2 separate regions of the Homo sapiens genome follow, and region 2 is linked to region 1. The links come from fine-mapping of genetic effects on gene expression. Tissue or cell type: cerebellum. Region 1 holds a variant in brackets; the other region holds the start of a gene. All regions are shown on one strand. Distances are between the middles of the regions.

The links. PIP is the estimated chance that this variant, and not a neighbour inherited with it, causes the effect.
Region 2: LMF1-AS1 starts here. The variant in region 1 is fine-mapped to the expression of LMF1-AS1 in cerebellum (GTEx, PIP above 0.99).

Annotation. Positions count from the first base shown.
Region 1 is chr16:1,887,667-1,895,767 of GRCh38, reverse strand. LINC02124 (long intergenic non-protein coding RNA 2124) reads right to left here and starts at 6,654. Exons shown (of 2, transcript NR_146568.1): 1 at 6,473-6,654; 2 at 5,334-5,635. The variant G/T (reference allele first, on the strand shown) is at 3,587.
Region 2 is chr16:916,885-924,985 of GRCh38, reverse strand. It overlaps LMF1-AS1 (LMF1 antisense RNA 1), which reads right to left and starts at 3,953. Exons shown (of 2, transcript NR_110946.1): 1 at 3,819-3,953. The region is part of intron 3 of LMF1 (lipase maturation factor 1); the gene reads left to right. RefSeq lists an enhancer at 8,014-8,101.

The DNA.
Region 1 (8,101 bases):
TTTTGAGATGGAGTTTTTGCTCTGTCGCACAGGCTGGAGTGCAGTGGTGCGATCTCGGCTCACTGCAACCTCCACCTCCTGGGTTCAAGCGATTCTCCTGCCTCAGCCTCCTGAGTAGCTGGGATCATAGATGCCACCACCACACCCAGCTAATTTTTGTATTTTTAGTAGAGATGGGGTTTCACCATGTTGGCCAGGCTGGTCTCGAACTCTTGACCTCAGGTGAGCCACCCACCTCAGCCTCCCAAAGTGCTGGGCTTACAGGTGTGAGCCACTGCGGATTGTCCAGAACATTTTTCGAATTAGTTGATGGAATGAGTTGATGTTCCTGGGACGGGTGTGGAGGGAGAGCTGTGCCCCTCCCTTCCGTGGACTGGAGAGGCTCACGGTAGAGCAGGCCTAGAACCCAGCTAGGCCACTGTGGTAGCAGGCCACCACCAGAGTCTACTCACTGCATTGGGAGTTCCCTTTCGCCAGGCTGGGCCCAGTCGTCTGCACCTGAACCAAAGCATGTTGCTGGCCAGAGCTCCTGGGCTAATTTCAGGACCATCAGAGTAAAGGGGCACTTCTGTCTTCAGCTCCCCTTGGACCTTGGCTCTTCTGCCTCCTTCCTACTGATAAAGGCCTACCTTTATGGCCTTTATAAAGATAGGAAATTACTTTTTTTTTTTTTTTTTTAAGATTGGCTCTTTCTGGCTGGGCACAGTGGCTCACGCCTGTAATCCCAGCGCTTTGGGAGGCCGAGGCAGGCGGACCACGAGGTCAGGAGATCGAGACCATCCTGGCTAACACAGTAAAACCCTGTCTCTACCAAAAATCCAAAAACAATTAGCTGGGCGTGGTGGGGGGTGCCTGTAGTCCCAGCTACTCAGGAGGCTGAGGCAGGAGAATGGCTTGAACCTGGGAGGCGGAGTTTGCAGTGAGCCAAGATTGTGCCACTGCACTCCAGCCTGGGTGACGGAGTGAGACTCCGTCTCAAAAAAAAAAAGACTGGCTCTTTCTCTGTTGCCCAGGCTGGAGTGCAGTGGAGCAAACACAGCTCACTGCAGCCACCACCTCCTGGGATCAAACAATCCTCCTGCCTCTGCCTCCCATGTAGCTGGGATCACAGCATGCACCATTGCACCCAGTTAATTTTTAAATTTTTTGTAGAGGTGAGGTCTCCCTACGTTGCCCAGGCTGGCCTTGAAACCCTGAGCTTAAGTGATCCTCCCACCCCGGCTTCCCAAAGTGCTGGGATTACAGGTGTGACCCACTGTGCCCAGCCCTAATTCCTTCCTTAAACAATTCCTTGTTTCAAGATCAACTGAGGGGTATGTAAGCAACAGAAATGCCTTTCTCACGCTCTGGAGGCCAGACACCCACACTCCAGGACAGGCAGGTCCGTGTCTGGTGAGGGCCCCCTCCTCGATGGCCATCTTTTCACTGTCCTCGCATGGCAGAAGGGGCAGATGAGGGCCTTGGGGCCTTTTTTTTTTTTTTTGAGACGGAGTCTTGCCTGTCACCCAAGCTTGAGTGCAGTGGCATGATCTCGACTCACTGCAACCTCCACCTCCCGGGTTCGAGCGATTCTCCTGCCTCAGCCTCCCGTGTAACTGGGACTACAGGCACGAGCCACCACACCTGGCTAATGGTTTGTATTTTTAGTAGAGATGGGGTTTCACCATATTAGACAGGATGGTCTCGATTTCCTGACCTCCTGATCCGCCTGCCTTGGCCTCCCAAAGTGCTGGGACTACAGGCATAAGCCACCACGCCCAGCCGCCTGCCTAATTTTTTATATTTTTGGTAGAGACAGAGTTTTGCCATGTTGGCCAGGCTGGTCTCAAACTCCTGACCTCAAGTGATCTGCCTGCCTTAGCCTCCCAAAGTGCTGGAATTACAGGTGTAAGCCACCACACTTGGCCTTTTTTTAAAAAAATTAAATTTTATTTTATTTTCTGAGACAGGGTCTTGCTCTGTCACCCAGTCTGGAGTGCAGTGGTGCAGTCTCGGCTCATTGCAGCCTCCACCTCCCAAGCTCAAGCAATTCTCCCACCTCAGCTTCCTGAGTAGCTGGGACAATAGGCGTGCACCACCACGCCTGGCTAATTTCTGTGTTTTTTGTAGAGATGGGAGTCTCACCATGTTGCCCAGGCTGGTCTTGAACTCCTGGGCTCCAAGTGATCCACCTGCCTCAGCCTCCCAAAGTGCTGGGATTATAGGCATGAGCCGCGGCACCTGACTGTGATGAACTGCTACAGTGAATTTTACCAACTGGTTTGGAGACATCAGATGCCGTCGATACTTTGTAAATGTTGTGCATGAGAGACACCTGTGACCTACTTCTCACACCGGTGCTGGGTCCCACTCCTAGAAATTCTGGTTCTATTGGTCTGGGGTGTGACAGTGGGTGGTTTAAAGCTCCCAGGTGATTCTAATTTGTAGCCAAGGCCAAGAACCTCTGCCCTGGAGCCTGCTCCTCAAAGTCTGCTCCCGAGAGTCCTCGCAGGGCAGAGAGCAGGCAGTCAAGGAAGGTTTCCTGGAGGAGGAGTGAAGAGGTGGCAGAGAGCATTCCAAGCAGAGGGCAGGGCTTAAGAGAAGGCACAGAACAAAAAGCACCACCAAGGGGCTCAAGAGAAGACACAGAACAAAAAGCAGCATCAAGGGGCAGGAAAGAACAAGCTTGATGTTTCTGAATGTCATAGCTGGGATACTGTGTGTGCAAATTGGAGAAGACCCAGCCTAAACAGGCTTGTGTGCAAAGGGAGTTTACTGGTGTCAGCATCAGCCCCATCTGGGAGCTGGTTTGAAAGGCAGGACCTCAGGCTCCTCCCAGGCCCCTTGAATCGGAATCCGCATTTTAACAAGATTCCTGGGTCTGCTCACTCATGTTTGAGAAGCATGGCTTTAGAAGATGAGAAATGGAAGCTAAAATTTAAGCATGTCTTTTTCATTTTCTTTTTTTGAGACAGAGTCTCGCTCTGTTGCCCAGGCTGGGGTGCAGTGGCACGATCTTGGCTCACTGCAACCTCCACCTCCCGGGTTCAATTGATTCTCCTGCCTCAGCCTCCCGAATAGCTGGGATTACAGGCACTCGTCACCACGCAGGCTAATTTTTGTATTTTTAGTAGAGATGGGGTTTTGCCATGTTGGCCAGGCTGGTCTCAAACTCCTGGCCTCAGGTGATCTGCCCACCTCGGCCTCCCAAAGTGCTGGGATTACAGATGTGAGCCACTGCACCCAGCTATTCTGTCTTTTTCCACAAGCCAGCACAGCCCATACTGTATCTGCACATCACATCTCCCAGGCTTTCTCGTCTTTGCATACAAGTCCCAGGAATGCTACTTGATGCTCGATGATGGGGCAACCCAAATTTTCCCTGCTTTACCCTCTGATCAGTAAGACCATGTCTTTTTTTTTTTTTTTTTTGAGATGGAGTCTCGCTCTGTCGCCCAGACTGGAGTGCAGTGGCACAATCTCGGCTCACTGCAACCTCTGCCTCCTGGGTTCAAGTGATTCTCCTGCCTCAGCCTCCCGAGTAGCTGGGACTACAGGCATGTGCCACCACATCTGGCTAATTTTTTGTATTTTTAATAGAGACGGG[G/T]TTGCACCGTGTTAGCCAGGATGGTCTCGATCTCCTGACCTCCTGATCTGCCCATCTCAGCCTCCCAAAGTGCTGGGATGACAGGCGTGAGCCACCGTGCCCGGCCGAGACCATGTCTTATTCATCTTTGTACATCAGCATAGTGTGTTGCAAGAATCCTGGAATGAGTTGGGTATAAAATCAGTACAGTACCCTAAAACTTAAAGCATGATAAAATAAAATAAAATAAATAATAATAATAATGAAAAAAAAGAAAACACTGATAACAACAACAACATCAACAACAAATCAGTGGCCGGGCGCAGTGGCTCACGCCTGTAATCCCAGCCCTTTGGGAAGCCGAGGGAGGCGGATCACAAGGTCAGGAATTCGAGACCAGCCTGGTCAATATGGTGAAACCCCATCTGTACTAAAAATACAAAAATTAGCCGGCTGTGGTAGCGGGTGCCTGTAATCCTAGCTACTGGTGAGGCTGAGGCAGGAGAATCGCTTGATCCCAGAAGGCGGAAGTTGCATTGAGCTGAGATCGCGCCACTGCACTCCAGCCTGGGAGACAGAGTGAGACTCCATCTAAAAAAAAAAAAAAAAGTCAGTTTGCAATTGATCATGTGGAATTCGAAATCATGGGCTCAAACGATTCTCTCACTTCACCCTCCCAAGTAGCTGGGACTACAAGTGTGCACCACCATGCCTGGCTAAAGTTTAACTTTTTTTAAGAGATGAGGGCTTGCTATGTTGCCCAGGTTGGTCTCAAACTCCTGGGCTCAAGTGATCCTCTTGTCTTGGCTTCCCAAGGTGCTGGGATTATAGGTGTGAGCCACCATACCCAGTGTAATTCTTATTTTTTTATTTTTTAGACCGAGTCTTGCTCTGTTGCCTAGGCTTGAGTGCAATGGCGTGATCTTGGCTCACTGCAATCTCTGCCTCCTGGGTTCAAGCGATTCTCCTGCCTCAGCCTCTTGAGTAACTGGGATTACAGGTGTGCACCACCACGCCTGGCTAATTTTATATTTTAGTAGAGACGGGGTTTCACCATGTTGGCCAGGCTAGTCTTGAACTCCTGACCTCAGGTGATCTGCCCGCCTCAGCCTCCCAAAGTGCTGGGATTACAGGCATGAGCCACTGCACCCAGCCTCCTGATTCTTTTTTTAAGGGACGATTAGTAAAAATAAATGTCAGCAACTTGGGAGCAGTGCTAAGCCAAGCCCTGTGTTTGCTCTACTTCCTAACCCCCAACCAAATGTAACTAAGCCACTGGGGACCTCCACCGTGTGGATACTCCCCTCCCTTCCAATTGTGAGCTCCTCAAAGATGAGGGCAATGCCGGCTCCAAAAAGCACATGACGCATGAATGAATTTGTGAGTGGGTGCAGACAACCTGTCTACACAGGTGTCAGCTTTCCTACTAGTGAAGCAAGCTCCAACAAAAGATTTTTTTTAAGGCAAAGAAAAAAGAAAAAAGAGAAAAAAGTCTCCCATAGGTTGCTTGCCTCATGTGTCCACAGAAGATAATGGATTGCGTTGAAATCCAGGAGCCTTTTCTCTGAAACCTAAGGTCTGTGAGCAGCAGAAAGCGGATGGTCGGAAGATCTGATAAAAGAGTCTAATATTCAAAACAGCCTGGTTAAATGTGCACAGCCTCGAATGCAGACGTGAGCCACATGCTCTCAGGATGCACTGACATTGTTTCGTTATCGAGATGAAGCACTAATGTTTTAGAAGAGTGATGGTGGAAGACAGCTGAAGATTTCCTGTCATTTGAGTGTTTATTTATAATCCCTCCCAGTCTCAGTCCTTGTTCCTAAAAGCGTCCGCATCAAGATGATGATTAAACACAAATACCTCATCAGGTGTCCCCTAAATCCTGGGGTACAGATGGGCAATCTGCAGGTACCTTCCCCCCTGCACAGAGGGAGCATCGAAGCTGCAACCCAGGCTGGACCAAAGGAGGACACGCCAAGCGTTCTCCTTGGGGATCCCCTGATAGGGAGGAACAAGATCCGTCCATAACTGAGTTGAGCTTTTCCTCAGGAATTCAGCTCCATCCACCTGTAACAAAAAACCCAATTTAGGGCTGTGTGCAGTGGCTCACACCTGTAATCCCAGCACTTTCGGAGGCCGAGGTGGGTGGATCACTTGAGGTGAGGAGATCGAGACCAGCCTGGCCAACATAGTGAAGCCCCTGTCTCTACTAAAAATATAAAACTTAGCCGGGTGTGATGGCGCATGCCTGTAGTCTCAGCTACTCAGGTGGCTGAGGCAGGAGGATTGCTTGAGCTTGTGGGGTTGAGGCTGCAGTGAGCCAAGATCGCGCCACTGCACTCCAGCCTGGGTGACAAAGTGAGACTCCGTCTCAAAAAAAAAAAAAAAAAAGGAAAGAAAAACAATCAAGCTATTTAGAGGAAATAATACACACGTTATTTATAAAAGTCTGAAACCAGGCTGGGCGTGGTGGCTCATGCCTGTAATCCCAGCACTTTGGGAGGTTGAGGCCGGAGGATAGCTTGAGCTCAATGGTTCAAGACCAACCTGGGCAACATGGCAAAATCCTTTCTTTGCAAAAAATACAAAAATTAGCCAGGTGTGGTGGTGTGTGCCTGTAGTCCCCGCTACTTGAGAGGCTGAGATGGGAGGATGGCTTGAGCCCAGGAGGCAGAGGTTGCAGTGAGCCGAGATCACACCAGTGCACTCCAGCCTGGGCAACAGAGCCAGACCCTGACTCAAAAAAAAAAAAAAAAAAAAAGAAAGAAACAAAAAGTCTGAAACCAAATTGCAACTTGTGCATCTTATGCAAATTGTACAGACGTCGTACGCTACTGATTACACTGAGTGGCTTTATGCACTCACTGTAGGGTTACCCTTAGGAATTTCTGATTCGAAACCCACCGAGGCAGCTCTGATTTCGCTGAGAACTCCATCGCTCTTCTCCACCTTCTCCACCGTGGCTCGGCAGTTGGCCCATCCGTACCTGGCTGCTCAATGGCTTGACTTTGACACAATAAACGGGAACTCGTTCACAATGAAGCCATCTCACGCCAAATCTATGTGTTCTACAGTGATTCCAATGCTAGTCGGGGAATAAAAGTTTAACACAGACTTTACAAAACAGGAGATTGCCAGAAACAATATTTAGGTGTTTCCTTTACCATGAATTCATGTTGGAAGGTTCTGGATGCCTAGGAAAATATAATTCGACATAACTTAATTTTTTTGTTTGTTTTTGAGATGGAGTCTTGCTCTGTCACCCAGGCTGGAGTGCAATGGTGCAATCTCAGCTTACTGCAACCTCCGCCTCCCAGGTTCAAGCGATTTTCTGCCTTAGCCTCCTGAGTAGCTGGGATTACAGGCACGCGCCACCACACCTGGTTAATTTTGGTATTTTTAGTAGAGACGGGGTTTCACCATGTTGGTCAGGCTGGTCTCGAACTCCCGACCTCAGGTGATCCACCCACCTCAGCCTCCCAAAGTGCTGGGATTACAGGCGTGAGCCACCACGCTGGACCTCGCACGTCCTTCTTCTAAAGCATCAGCCGTTGGCGGCAGAGCCCGCTCGAATCCAGCACGTCCTCTTCTTCACTAATTACAGCCAGTCCTCACTATAGGCTTTTGGAAACTGCAACTTTAAGGAAAACGACATGTAACAAAAACTATTTTTTTTCCTTGTTAACATTATAATGAAACAACAAACAACCTAATCTGAAGACCTGTTTTACTTTGTTTTGCTTAAAGTCAGTTTCCAAAGATCCACTGATGATGTTAAATGAAAACTTCACATCTTATTTTGTAGAGATGGGGTCTCGCTATGTTGCCTAGGTTGGTCTCAAACTCCTGGGCTTAAGTGTTCTCCCCCACCTCGGCCTTCCAAAGTGCTAGGATTATAGGCGTGAGCCACCTTGCCCGGCCCTTTTTAATTTTTAGTTAATTAATTATTATTTTTTATTTTTAGAGACAGGGTCTCGCTCTATCACTCAGGCTGGAGTGTAGTGATGCAATCATGGGTCACTGCAGCCTGGAACTCCTATGCTCAAGCAATCTTCCCGCCTCAGCCTCCCAAGTAGCTGGAACTACAGGGCGCCACCACAGCTGGCTCAGGAAAGGGCGTTCTAAGGAGGAGACATTTAAGCTGAAACCTTGTGAGTGAGAAGCAGCCAGGCATGTGAAGAGGGTTCCAGCAATACAGAACATGCTGCCCAAAGGCCCCGGGCCGGGAAAGAACTTGAATTGTTGCCAGCACTGGAAGAAATCCAGAATGCTGGGCTTGCTGAGCTTTGGTGAGGAAGTCACAGAGGCAGGGCGTCCCAGGCCTTGCTGGGGGAGGTCCTGAGCCCAGGTTGTCGGATAAAATGTAGGGCTCCCAGTTAAATTTTTTTTTTTTTGAGACAGAGTCTTACTCTGTCACCCAGGCTGGAGTGCAGTGGCGAGATCTTGGCTCACTACAACCACTGCATCCCAGGTTCAAGCGATTCTCCCGCCTCAGCCTCCCAAGCAGCTGGGATTACAGGCACCCACCACCAC
Region 2 (8,101 bases), 970 kb after region 1:
CGGCTGGAGGGCACAGTCTGTGCGGTGGCCTTGCCACCCCCTAGCAGGTCTGCATCCGTTCTCCCGCCTGGGCCTCAATACTTGTTTCCTCCTTTTCCTCACTCTCCCTTGCCTAAACCGCCATAGATCATCCCCTTTATGGGTCTTTTCAAAGAGCTGGTTTTATCTATCAGAATTTTAAAATATACTCTAGCTCATTCGTTTTTGCCTCTTGTAGTTGCTTGCTTTTTCTGGGAGAAAGTGGTTTATCATTTCCAGTGCCTGGAGTTGGTTCAGCTATTTTCTGTCTCTTCTTCTCTGCTAATGAAAGCCAACTGGAGGGCGGCTACCCACTTCTGGGTATGTCCCTGCCCTACCCTGTCATCTGAGACCCCCGGCTGCCCCTGACAGTGGCCGATGGTGTGGTTTTATAACCTTCAGCGCTAATGCCTCTAGACCAAGGACAGCCTGGAGAAATGCTTCGAAAATGCCACATGCTCAGGGTTTTACAGGTGGCCTTTTGTTTCTCAACTTTGATTTTATTACACTGTGGCCAGTGTGGCCTGAAGATTGTTCTTTTAATTATTAAAAAAAAATGGGCATGTGCATGAATAGTCAAATTGTATTACACGACTTATAATAAAAACAGAAGCCCTTGCCGTACCACTTCTCAGCCACATGCTGTTCTCCAGACAACCCTTTTATCACTTCCTGCACTTAACTCTGGTATTTGTCTGTCTTTCTGACTGATAGGTTTATATGGGTTATTCTTCGCATACCACGGTTAGACACTGTGTATACATGTCCTCTTATGAACGACAGGGATTGCCCTCACACACCCTAATGTTCTTCTCATCATCATCAGTATAGCTGTGTCACAAGTATAATTTTTATTAGTTTGATTGTCTTTACATTATTTTGACTCTGTAAATATTGTGACTGCTGAGCCAAATAGTGAACTATAGTAACTTTTTTTCTAATAACTCTTCATTTTTCCTGGAGTTCATAGTTGCCTTTTCTATTTTGATTGGCTTCGTTTTTCATCTCTGATCATATCTCACTCATTTGTTCCAACTTTACCAGCACAACTGGTCAACCCTTTCCAATACTGTTGTTTTTACAGAATCAAACACATTGGACAATCCATCAGTTTTTTCTCTCCACTTTGTGAAGATTTCCGCTCAGGACCTCATTGTTACTGCTTGGAGCAGATGCTTTGTAGGCCTCTGGATTTGGAGATTGTGGGGCAGGTTAACTCTGCCAGATTGGGGGCCACTGATGAGTTTGTCCCTCTGCCCATTCCAGGGATCCTAAGATGGTTCCCAGGAGCAGGTGACCTCATTGTATTGAGGGTAAGGCTCAGAGTCCACAGCCCCTCCTCCACGTCCTTCTAAAGCAGTGCTCTTAGGGAGGATTTCTCTTTTTTAGAGCTGGGATCTTGCTCTGTTGCTCAGGCTAGTCTCAACCTACTGGGCTCAAGCTGTGCTGCCACCTCAGCCTCCTGAGTAGCCGGGACTATTGGCTTCCCTGAGAAGCCTGATGCTTTAGTGGGGAAGGTGTTTAGAGACCAAGACGTGGGTGCTGGGGTGCCCGTTACTACTGGGGTGCTGCAGCTTCTCAGCCCCTCAGCCGGCAGAGTTAGGAAATACATGGCTGTTCAGGAAGCCACGCAATGGGGAGGAATGAACTGTGGACAGCTGGGGACCCTCGTAGGCCACAGTGCACCGTGCCAGTGTTAGCAGCTGCCACATCCGCCCCACACTCCTTGCCCCTGCTGTTTTGCCATGACGCAGATCCCAGGCATCACATTCCTGCATTTGGAAATGCCTCCTCGTACACCTGAAGACAGGCCTTTGCAACAACACGACGCCAACACCACATCACACCCGAAAACCCAGGCGACTTTCACACAGGGCCTTCGCAACAACACGACACCAACACCACATCACACCCGAAAACCCAGGCGACCTTCACACAGGGCCTTCGCAACAACACGACACCAACACCACATCACACCCGAAAACCCAGGCGACCTTCACACAGGGCCTTCGCAACAACACGACACCAACACCACATCACACCCGAAAACCCCGGCGACTTTCACACAGGGCCTTCGCAACAACACGACACCAACACCACATCACACCCGAAAACCGAGGCGACTTTCACACAGGGCCTTCGCAACAACACGACGCCAACACCACATCACACCCGAAAACCCAGGCGACTTTCACACAGGGCCTTCGCAACAACACGACGCCAACACCACATCACACCCGAAAACCCAGGCGACTTTCACACAGGGCCTTCGCAACAACACGACACCAATACCACATCACACCCGAAAACCCAGGCGACTTTCACACAGGGCCTTCGCAACAACACGCACCAACACCACATCACACCAGAAAACCGAGGCGACTTTCAGACAGGGCCTTCGCAACAACACGACACCAACACCACATCACACCCAAAAACCGAGGCGACTTTCTTCACGTCCATGTTAGTAATGCCTTTTCTCAGCTGTTTGTCCACACAAGGGCTGGCCACGTTAGGTGGACGCCCGTGTGCTGTCTCCCTGCTTCAGGTCCTGCTGGATCAGTTCCCCAGTGGCCGCTCTGCCTGCCATTCTGCCTACCTGGCTACCAGTCGCTGTGGGCTGGGGGTGAGAGCTCACAGCTGGATCAGAACCCCCTCTGTGGCCCCCCTCGGGAGGTGGCTGCCTTCTCCCACCTTGCATCGGAGGCGAGATTGTGCAGGGACCAGAGGCTGCCCTGGTCTGCCTGTGAGAAAGCCCCTGGGTGGTTGCTGCCAAGGAGCATGGCTGGGCCTGCGAGACAGGGTGCCCCGATCTGCCTGGAAGTTTTCTGTCCAGGCCGCCCTCCCTCATCGCCTCTGTCCCGTGTTGGCTGCTTGGAATGCGTCTCTCTGGACCTCATCTGGGATAAACAGCTGCTTCTCTCCCCTTACTCCTCAGCTGTGGGGGAACGCTGGTTTCCAGGCCCACTCACAGGATTTTTAATGTTCCGCCCAGACCTTGCTAACACCTCTCAGCGGCTAAGCCTATTTCTGTAGATTCTCTTACTTATGTTTTGTTTTTAAATTTTCTATGTAGTCAATCTTTTTTACATTTCAAACCTTTTAACCTTTGTTTTTCTCCTAAGAATTGTATAGTAAAACCCGCACGGGGACCGCCTGGATGCCGTAGGTTCTGTTCACGGGGTTTGCTGCGTTGTTACGTAGTGGGTCTCCTCGCCCGTGTCCCCCGTCCCTGCGTCGGTGCTTCAGCGCACATCAGGGTGGGGCTGGTGTCAATGCTTCCCACATCATTAGCTGGAACTCACCGCACACTGCGTCTTTCCCTCCATAAAGAACTTGCACGAGCCCCATCAAGGTATAGGGAGTGGCCGTCACCCCAGAAAGTCCCGTCATCCCCACTCGTCACCGCCCGCATTTGTACAGAGATACAGCTGTCTTGTTCTAAGGGCGAGTCCCTGTGAGAACGCGTGGAGCGTTTTGTCCCTGCCCCCACACACTCCGCCGGGGGGTTTGGCTTTGTGCCGGTGCCTGGCTGGCGGGTGAACTTTCCACAGGGCCTGCCTTGTCCACGTCTCTGCAGGGAGCGCAGGTCCGTGTGCCCACCCAGGAGGTCTTGGACCCAGCAGCCCCTCAAGAAGGGCTATGGCGACTGTTCACCGCAGGAGGGCTCTGCGCTGTCTGAAAAGGGGAACAGAATGCCCCAGTGGAAGCAGATTTGCAGGTGATATTAGGGAAGCTTCCTCCTGCCTTCTACTTACCTGGACTTCTTATCCTCCAAGGCGCTTGACTCACAGTCTTACCTCCTTGAGTTGCCTCCAGAAGAAAATGGTCTTTGTTTTACTGAGTTCCTTCTAAGCGCAGTCTGTGATGGGGCCCGTTCTGTCCTGTCCTCGCCCTGCTGAGCACTGAGACAGAGACCCAGGCGACCTGCTGACCGAGGCCAGCTCACGAGCCTGCTCTGGGCCACGTGGTGCCGAGTTGCTTCCTCCTTCAGGCTCTGATGACACTGAAGCTCCCCGGGGAGAACAGCGGTGTCCTTTGCTGCTGGAGATGCCTGCAGATGCTTGCTCTGGGCATGCAGGGGCCCCTGGGGAAGGATCCGCGCCTGGCTCCCTCTCTCCATCTGTCCCTCGTTTTGGACGGGAAGTCGACTATCATTCCTGACGTTCCAGTGTAACGTGTTATGTTTCTCTGATGGCTTTGGGGATTTTATCTTCCGTTGCCAGTTTCTTGACTATGATATGCCTACTTTTTACCAAATTTGGATAATTTTTGCCAATATTTGGGGGGGTTGCCCCATGTTCTTTCTCCTCTCCTGTGGCTCCACGGACATGGACATCAGGCCTCTCCCTGCCTTCCACGAGCTCCTGGGCCCTGTGCTTCTGTGTGGTGTTTTCTAAAAGCCTCTCATCTCTAGAATGAGTCACTGTGGCTGCTATGTCTTCGTGTTCACTGCCTTTTCTTTCGTTCTTCACTCTGCTGCTGAGCTCAGCCAGGGGCATTTGTGCTCTGGAGATTTTAGTTCTTGCTCTGGAGTGGGCCTGGCCTTCCTCCGAGGCTCTGTGTCTCTGCTCAGCTCTCCAGCCCGCCTGCCTGGCAAGCACGTTTTCCTGTGCTTTCCGGTCCTGATGCTTTCCTGCGTCCGTGTGGAGCCAGCGCTTGGGGTGTGGTGTGTAGAGAGGGGAATGTGGACATGCAGTGCGTGCTGTGGGGGCTGACGGGCTGGGGCCGGTGTGGATGTCGTGTCGGGGGCCGAGCCAACGGGCCAGGGCCAGTGTGGATGTCATGTTGGGGGACGACGGACTAGGGCCAGTGTGAATGTCTTGTTGGGGGCCCAGCTGACGGGCCAGGGCTGGTGTGGATGTCCTGTTGGGAGCCGACAGGCTGGGGCCATTGTGGATGTCGTGTTGGGGGCTAAGCCGACGGGCCAGGGCCGGTGCAGATGTTGTGCTGGGGGCCGACAGGCTGGGGCCAGTGTGGATGTCCTGTCCAGCAAGGCCCTGGAGGTGGTGTCCGGGCAGTCTTGACCGAGGCCGGAAGGATGGTGCCGGGGGCAGGAGCCTGACTGCCTCGGAGGAAGGGGGTCCCGGGGCGGAGCTGTGGGGTGGGGAGCCCATTGTGGATGCTGGCTGCTTCACCCTCACCCCCACGTTCTGTCTGTGGGTCTCCGTGAGGCTCCTCCCAGGGCGGCCCTGCCACATGATGTAGCTGAAACCCAGTCCTCTCTGCACACCAGTGTTTCTAGGAAAACACTTCCTGTCTTTCTCCCCAAGACCTCCAGGACGTGGGCCTGAGGTCATCACTGCCTCCTTCAGTTGCTGCTGCCCGAGGCCCCCAAGAGTGACCCACATGAGACTGCGGTCCAGACGCCCTCCCTGCCTCTGAGGGCGCACACTGTCCAGAGCGGGTCTGTGGGTGGAATGCCCCCAGCGGCCTCCGGGCCCCTTGTCTGTGGGGCCTGTGCCCTGGTGCTGCCGGCACTGCTGTCCTCACGCGAGCGCTGGAGATATGAGCTTTCCCAGGGGGGCTCAGCAGTGATGAAGGTGGGGCAGGAGCTGTGTGTGTCCACCATAGGTCCTGACAGAGATGAAGCAGAGGCCACAGGGCTGCCCTGCCCCCTGCCGCGGGCATGTGGGGTGATTCCCGCCCACTTCTCAGGTGTGCCAACCCCCACGTTCCTTCCCTGTGAGTGTGTGAGCTCACATAGCCCCTGGACACACCACCCTCCACGTGGGGTGGATCGTGCCTGTTGGCCACACTGAGCACACCTGGAAACGCCGACTGCCGAGTGTCAGGGGAGGGTCTGGAAAAGCCGCGAGTGAAAACAGACTGTCCCCCGAGACTGTGTGGTGAGGGGAACACCTGATTCTGCAGCCTGGGAGTCCACGCCGACATGCCGACTGCCCACACAGGTGTCACAGCAGGGATGTGGATGCTACTGTGCTGTGCGGGCTCCAGCCCAGGAGGCCCCGTGGGAGGAGCAGGTGCCGAGAGCTCGTCCCACCGCTACTCGGGAGTGAGACCCACATCCCACAGGTGTCTCTGAGCAGGCGCCCACCCCAGGACTGGCTGAGAGTCAGGGTGCACCCCAGGGCACTGGCCCCACGTGAGAGTCGGGGTGCGCCCCGGGATGCCGGCCCCGCGTGAGAGTCGGGGTGCGCCCCGGGACGTCGGCCCCGCGTGGTCACTTAAATTCACATCCAAGTGAACCAAAGTTAAATGTGATTTAAAATGTGCTTCTCAGCCACGCAGGCTGCCTTTGAGTGCCTCAAGGCCTGAAGGGCCGGGGCCCTTGAGGCACACCCCGTGACCCAGGACAGCTCCGTGGGCACAACGTCCCCGCAGCCCACGATGGCCAGCACTTTTCTGGGGTCTCATGAGTCCCTTGGAGGCTCGGCACACTTCAGCCATTTTTCATGCCCGGGACACAAAAGACAAAGAAATGGTCAGGTGTGGTGCCCACCAGCCTGACTTAGGTGAAATACTTGGAACACATTAATCCTAAACACTCTTTGCCGCGAAGTCTAATTTCCGTGGACGGGAAGCATTTTCGTATTTATCCAAAACCAATAAAGATAGCTAAGGTCATTACTGCGGATTTGTTTCCCAAGAGCTGGTGACACCTGCACAGAGCTGAGCCACAGGGACACCTGGGGCTAGGAAGTCTGGTTGTCACGGCAACCAAGTACGAACAAGCCGCGCGGCCGGGCGCAGGGGTCACTGAGGCCACTTCCTGTTTCTCGGCAGCGCCCACGGACAGCCTTAAAATATGTAACAGTCCACGAAATTCCTCATAACTGAGAGCGTGCAGTTAACGTAATTTTATCTAAAGCACGAAAGCCCTTAACCAGCACTTTCAGAGATGTCTGGTTACTAGAAAATGCCCTCCCATTTGCCATCTGATCTCTGGTTTAACCCAGCCAGCCGCCCCGCGCCACGTCCCGACGCCATGTCCCCAGCTCTGCACCTGTATGTCTTGCGGGCAGCAGAAGGGCGGCCCTCCTGTGAAACGTCCTCAGGACGTGAGACATGGCCAGCGGGCAGACGCAGCTGTGAAGCTCAGGCCGGTTCTGGAGGTTCCTGTGCAGAGCTTGGCTCTGGGTGACCACAGGCCAGGGAGCTGCAGTCCACTCCAGACACAGCCTGGTCAATCCCAGAGGAGGGAAGGAGCCCACGGTCAGGAGGAGGCCGGGGGTGCCGGGCGAGCACAGCAGTACTCCTGTCCCCTGGGACACCTCTGGGGTGGGGCTGACATCAGGACCTCCCAGCACCCCTGCAAACAGCCCCGGTACGGGGGCAGGCATGTCTCTTAGGGGAGGGCAGCCCTGCCTGGTCATCTCCAGTGAGCCGGAGGGGTCAGCGGGCCTGGACAAGCCCCTAGAACGGCACCTGCCCGCAGCACACACGTGTGGCATTTCTTCACGTGGGCCTGCGCCCGCCCACAGCGCACACGTGTGGCATTTCTTCACGTGGGCCTGCGCCCGCCCGCAGCGCACACGTGTGGCATTTCTTCACGTGGGCCTGCGCCCGCCCGCAGCGCACACGTGTGGCATTTCTTCACGTGGGCCTGCGCCCGCCCGCAGCGCACACGTGTGGCATTTCTTCACGTGGGCCTGCGCCCACCCGCAGTGCACACATGTGGCATTTCTTCACGTGGGCCTGTGCCCGCCCGCAGTGCACACGTGTGGCATTTCTTCACGTGGGCCTGCGCAGCATGTGCTCTGCGTGGCCACACCATGGCTGTGTGTTGCCCATGTGCTTGGGGGAGGTGAGATGGTGGTGACCCGTCCCCCATGGTACCGGCATGAGAGTGGCTTTGGGCCTGGTTCCCCACAGGATTGCTTCTGTGTGCTGGGCTGCAGATGGCCCCATACACGTGACTTTAGCTCTGCCTTCAAGATGAGTTTGCAGCATGGCAGCCCCTGGGTGGCGTCTCCATCCCCGACGCTGAGCAGTACTCATGCTCTCAGAGCTCGCTGCGCAGAGAAATAGCCGTAACAGACCCGGAGCTCAATATTCAGGGGATCCCAGAGCTGGCTGTGCAGAGCAATGGCCATAACAGACCCGGAGCTCAACACTCAGA